Linked DNA regions of Homo sapiens: region 2 is linked to region 1. A link means that fine-mapping ties the variant in region 1 to the plasma level of a protein whose gene starts in the linked region. Region 1 holds a variant in brackets. A gene starts in the other region. All regions are shown on their reverse strands.

Region 1 (2,912 bases):
GAGAATTATGTAGCAACCTGAGATATTATTTACTTTAAAAAACACAAAAATTTAGAATATGTACCACACAAATACTCTGCATGAAAAAATTACTTGAAAAAAGACTCACACCAATCAAAAGGGAATTTAAGAAATAAGAGGAGGAAGGAAGGTGGTGATCTATTTACCTATCCACCTATCCATTCATTCGTTCACCTATTAATTTACTCATTATCTTTTTTCAATCTATTTTTTCTATCTTAATAAATAAAATCTAGTAGGTTATTTAATGCTAAATTTAAAAATCTTGAGGCCGGCCGGGTGCAGTGGCTCACGCCTATAATCCCAACACTTTGGGAGGCCGAGGCAGGTGGATCATGAGGTCAAGAGATCGAGACCATCTTGGCCAACATGGTGAAACCCCGTCTCTACTAAAAATACAAAAATTAGCCAGGTGTGGTGGTGCATGCCTATAGTCCCAGCTACTCGGGAGGCTGAGGCAGGAGAATCACCTGAACCTGGGAGGTGGAGGTTGCAGTGAGCCGAGATCACCGCCACTACACTCCAGCCTGGTGACAGAGTGAGACTCTGTTTCAAAAAACAAAACAAAAAAAATTTTGAGGCAGCCAGATGTAGTGACTCATGTCTGTAATGCCAACACTGTGGGAAGCCAAGGTGGAAGAATTACCTGAGCCTAGCAGTTCAAGGATGCAGTGAGCTGTGATCGTGCCACTGCATTCCAGCCTGGGTGATAGAACAAGACTCTGTCTTAAAAAAAAAAAAAATCTTAAAATTGAAATGGCATCTTGCAAATAGTGGAGAGACCTAATGTAATTTTTTCTAGGTTTTCATCTTCCTTTGTTATTGTTTTGAGGAATGAGAAAGATATCAAAGAAAACTGAGTGTTGGCTGAGTAAGACAGTCTATCTCAACTGAGAGCATAGTTTATCTTCTTAAAATAATAGTAGAGTCATAGATATCTAATAAGAAGAGCAAGAAAAGGGGAAAGCATTAACAGAATGGAAAACTATAACTGAAACAAAAACAAAAGATAACATAAATAGTAATTTGTTCAAATAAAACAATAAGAGAAAAAAATAATAAGAAATTTAAGCCAGTAGTAAACATGAGATATACTGATCTCTACTCTGAGAATGGAATGAATTTTGCCATTAAAGGTAGACTCTCACATTGAGTAAACATAACACCAATGTACTTAATGTTTACACAGTCATGCTTAAAACAATTGGTAAGGAGAATTAGAGAGTCAAGGAGTGAACAAAAAGATAAGAAAAAATGCAAACCAAGAAAGCAGAAGACTCGATGTTAATACCAAAAAAGGTGGCATTTAAGGCTAAAAGAAATATAAGAAACATGAATGGCCATGATATAATGGTAAAAGCTACTATAAATTGCAAAGTTTCAACAGTAATGAAATAGTGAGCATTAAATTCTGTACCAGCATGAACAAAGTCATAGCTGAAATTATAAAGAAATATTACAGAGCAGGTCTCAAGCATGGGCAAACTCCCTGTCTTGATGGAGTGGAAGCTCCAACTGACTTGATGAAATGTTTTTGTTTTTTTTTTTAATTTTTTTTTTT[TA/A]TTATACTCTAAGTTTTAGGGTACATGTGCACATTGTGCAGGTTAGTTACATATGTATACATGTGCCATGCTGGTGCGCTGCACCCACTAACTTGTCATCTAGCATTAGGTATATCTCCCAATGCTATCCCTCCCCCCTCCCCCGACCCCACCACAGTCCCCAGAGTGTGATATTCCCCTTCCTGTGTCCAAGTGATCTCATTGTTCAATTCCCACCTATGAGTGAGAATATGCGGTGTTTGGTTTTTTGTTCTTGCGATAGTTTACTGAGAATGATGGTTTCCAATTTCATCCATGTCCCTACAAAGGACATGAACTCATCATTTTTTATGGCTGCATAGTATTCCATGGTGTATATGTGCCACATTTTCTTAATCCAGTCTATCATTGTTGGACATTTGGGTTGGTTCCAAGTCTTTGCTATTGTGAATAGTGCCGCAATAAACATACGTGTGCATGTGTCTTTATAGCAGCATGATTTATAGTCCTTTGGGTATATACCCAGTAATGGGATGGCTGGGTCAAATGGTATTTCTAGTTCTAGATCCCTGAGGAATCGCCACGCTGACTTCCACAATGGTTGAACTAGTTTACAGTCCCACCAACAGTGTAAAAGTGTTCCTATTTCTCCACATCCTCTCCAGCACCTGTTGTTTCCTGACTTTTTAATGATTGCCATTCTAACTGGTGTGAGATGATATCTCATAGTGGTTTTGATTTGCATTTCTCTGATGGCCAGTGATGATGAGCATTTCTTCATGTGTTTTTTGGCTGCATAAATGTCTTCTTTTGAGAAGTGTCTGTTCATGTCCTTCGCCCACTTTTTGATGGGGTTGTTTGTTTTTTTCTTGTAAATTTGTTTGAGTTCATTGTAGATTCTGGATATTAGCCCTTTGTCAGATGAGTAGGTTGCGAAAATTTTCTCCCATGTTGTAGGTTGCCTGTTCACTCTGATGGTAGTTTCTTTTGCTGTGCAGAAGCTCTTTAGTTTAATTAGATCCCATTTGTCAATTTTGGCTTTTGTTGCCATTGCTTTTGGTGTTTTGGACATGAAGTCCTTGCCCACGCCTATGTCCTGAATGGTAATGCCTAGGTTTTCTTCTAGGGTTTTTATGGTTTTAGGTCTAACATTTAACTCTCAATAAATTAGGTATTGATGGGACGTATTTCAAAATAATAAGAGCTATCTATGACAAACCCACAGCCAATATCATACTGAATGGGCAAAAACTGGAAGCATTCCCTTTGAAAACTGGCACAAGACAGGGATGCCCTCTCTCACCGCTCCTATTCAACATAGTGTTGGAAGTTCTGGCCAGGGCAATCAGG
Region 2 (2,912 bases), not on the chromosome of region 1:
ACCAATGAGCTAATGAAAACAAGGATTATTTAGTAGCAAGTATGATTACAGTTCAATTTTAAACTTTTTATATTTAAAACTTTGTATAGTTTTCCATCTGCATAAAACACCAACCCTAATAGCAACTTAGCTATACAAAATTTCATTCTATTTTCTTTCAATGAAGACACTGACATGACATTCCACTGCTTAAAATTTATTTTCAGATTCTAATCTTTTGGCTGATTTCATTAACAATTCAAATTGAGTAGATAATGATGGATCAACTATGTCCAAGACACAAGTGTGTCTCACATATAGCTCGAGGGCCCATCTATCATAACATTTTGATCACAAAAAGGCAGTCATAGCTGATTATTTAGTTATTCAATACATCACCCTATAGAGATTTTAAAAGTCACACAGCTTAAAAAATATATGATGACTACCATAAGTAGAGGAGTCAGAGGCGGCTTCGTTCTTTAAATAACGAAATTAATATTGATCAGTGTGCACGGAATAAAAATGAGACAATAACCACACCAAACCTGGCAGTCGCCAGATTTGTGTGTCTTTGAAGGTAAGGGGGCCACACAGGCCAGATGATTACTACTGCCAACTCACCAGCTGAGCTTAGAGAATAGGCAGCATCTGCACACAGTCCACTCTTGAGAACCAGAATTTACAGTCATTTTTTTCTGGCAGGGACCAGAGAACGTGGCACTGATAAACTGGGAAAAGTCTGACAGAAACAGGGTTGTTGGGGGTGAAAGGAGCCTTCAGGACTGAAATACTGGAAGGCATAAGACAACAGCTAGCGGATTAACATCCCGCCCCAGACCCCGGGGAGAAAAGAAACCATGGGGTTTGAAGAGAAAAGGGTCGTCCTTACCTTGTCATCCTCGCATCTCTTCCCGAGGCCCTCTCTGGCCTGCAGCCGGCTGCTGAGGCGGCCGTAGTCGGCCTCCTTCTGGTCGATCTGTTTCTTGTGCGTGTCCACCAACAGCAAGAGGTCCGAATTGCGCTTTTCCAGCCGCCCGCGGGCCACTTCGGTGCGCTGGACCTGGCCCTGCAGCTCGGCCACCTCCTCCTGAAGCAGGACGTGGCGGGAGGAGATGCTCCAGTAGTTGAAGGCGAGGACGACGATCACCACCAGCAGCACCACCAGCACGAGAGAGGGCAGGCGGCCAGCCCGCCGGTTGGCCCCGAAACCCACCATGGGGCCAAATCGGGCTGTACCCTAGGGGCCTCGCCGCAGACACCTGCAGGCAGAAGCCCAGGCCTCGGCTGGAGTTGCCCGGCGGACACGGCCCCAGGGCCGGCCGAGGGAGGAGGCGGGCTTACCGGTCGGCTGCGAGCCGGAGAAGGGGGCGGGGCCGCAAGCCGCAGGTCCCTCCCCGCCCCCCTCCTCAAATCAGGCCAAAACGCGTTCCGGAGGCTTTGAACCCGACCCTGCACCTGCCCAAGGGAACCGGGAGAACCCAGCTGCCAGCGTCCCCCAAACCCAACACCTCACGGTTGGGAGGCGGGGAAAAAAACCGGAAAGGGGCGGATGTACCCTGGCCCCACCCACTAGCTGGGGCCGGGTCGTCTAGGGGACCATTTCCGAGTTTCCGTCGACACCCCTCTTGTCGCGAGAACGTTGCTTCCTCTCGTCTCTCTCTCTCTCTCTCTCTCTCTCTCTCTCTCTCTCTCTCTCTCTCTCTCTCTCTCGCTCTCTCGCTCTCTCGCTCTCTCGCTCTCTCGCTCTCTCTCGCTCGCTCTCTTTCTCTCTCTCTCTCTCTCTCTCTCTCTCTCTCTCTCTCTCTCTCTCGCTCTCTCTCTCTCTCGCTCGCTCGCTCTCTTTCTCTCTCCCCGCCCAGAGTTTTCTCTGTCGCGTAGGGTGTTGTGTTAATTTTGGCGGTCTCAGATGTCTCAGGTACCTGGGTCGGAGTCCTTTCTGTTGTTATCTACTGGATTCCCTTGATTCAAGGCCTAGGGAGTTCCTGCCCTACACTGGCCCTCGCGAAAATATTTGTCTTTGAGGACGTCTGGGGCTGCGACCGCGGAATAGAAAAAAATAGTAGGTGAGCTGCTGCCAAAAAGGAGCGACTAGAAAGGTTTTGTACTTGCTTCTGTAGAAGGGGAATTTCTCTTTTGTGCTAATGATGTGGAAAGAAAAAACAAAAAGACTGTAAAATAGCGATGCCCTAAACATAATGGAGAAAAGCGGGAGAAACCAAGCTTTAGGACTGAAAGGGGTGGTGCCAGTCTCGTTTCCTAGGTTACTGCTTTCACGAACCGAAAGAATTTCAGAATGTGGCGAGCTCCAATTTTTAAACGCACTGCTGCTTTTGCCTCAGCTGGGCTTCCAAACAGAAAGTCCAGAAGCTGCCCTCGATGAATCGTAACTAATGCACTGTTACTGCCAGCGAACACATTCCGGGTTAGAAATAATAGCTCTAACAAATTGTTTTGCGCGCCTAGTCTCATATTATCTTCTCAACAACGCAATTTTACAGATGAAGAATCCAAGACACATAGATGTTTGGGAACTTTCTCTTATCTGGTTTTAAATAGGCTTGAATCCAGATCATTGAACTCTAAACACCAGTGCTGTCTGCATATAGCAGATTGTTTATATGTTAAGTGTGAATTTCAGTAGTGCAAAAAAAAAAACAAAACCTGCCTCTTTTTTTTTTTTGCATAATTATTTTGTCCGTGCATAGAGAAATAAAAAGGTACTGGCTCTAACCTGTTTAAGGAGAGGATGGGGTTGCCTTATTTTTCAGACCTCAGGTTGAAGAACTTCCATGAGTATAAAACCTCAAGAAGGAAAAACCTTGGTATTTTTTATTCGAATCAGAGTGATATGATTTTGAGGCAGGAAGACTTGTCATCTTAATTATTCTGTGCTTCCTATCCTCAAAAATTATTTCCCTAAGTCCCGTAGT

Alleles and levels. Positions count from the first base shown, and alleles are read on the strand shown. Strength reflects both the effect of a copy and how common the allele is.
For the plasma level of the protein whose gene starts at base 1,509 in region 2, allele TA in region 1 goes with a lower level than allele A (weak association).

Evidence for each region. A credible set is the group of variants that fine-mapping cannot tell apart. PIP is the chance, under the fine-mapping model, that this variant and not a neighbour inherited with it causes the effect. Protein levels are from antibody-based Olink assays in UK Biobank. Linkage for the fine-mapping came from a reference panel and not from the study's own genotypes, which makes the PIPs less certain.
Region 2: GOLM2 starts here. The variant in region 1 is the best candidate, but not a certain one, in a credible set for the plasma level of the GOLM2 protein (UK Biobank, PIP 0.52).

What each region holds. Positions count from the first base shown.
Region 1 is chr1:199,024,239-199,027,150 of GRCh38, reverse strand. The region is part of intron 1 of LINC01221 (long intergenic non-protein coding RNA 1221); the gene reads right to left. Among named protein-coding and RNA genes, the nearest start is that of LINC01222, 6.7 kb to the right of the region's middle. The variant TA/A (reference allele first, on the strand shown) is at 1,583.
Region 2 is chr15:44,287,316-44,290,227 of GRCh38, reverse strand. It overlaps GOLM2 (golgi membrane protein 2), which reads right to left and starts at 1,509. Exons shown (of 10, transcript NM_138423.4): 1 at 872-1,509. The coding sequence starts at 1,198. RefSeq lists a silencer at 1,233-1,592 and enhancers at 1,403-1,697, 2,093-2,162, 1,544-2,450.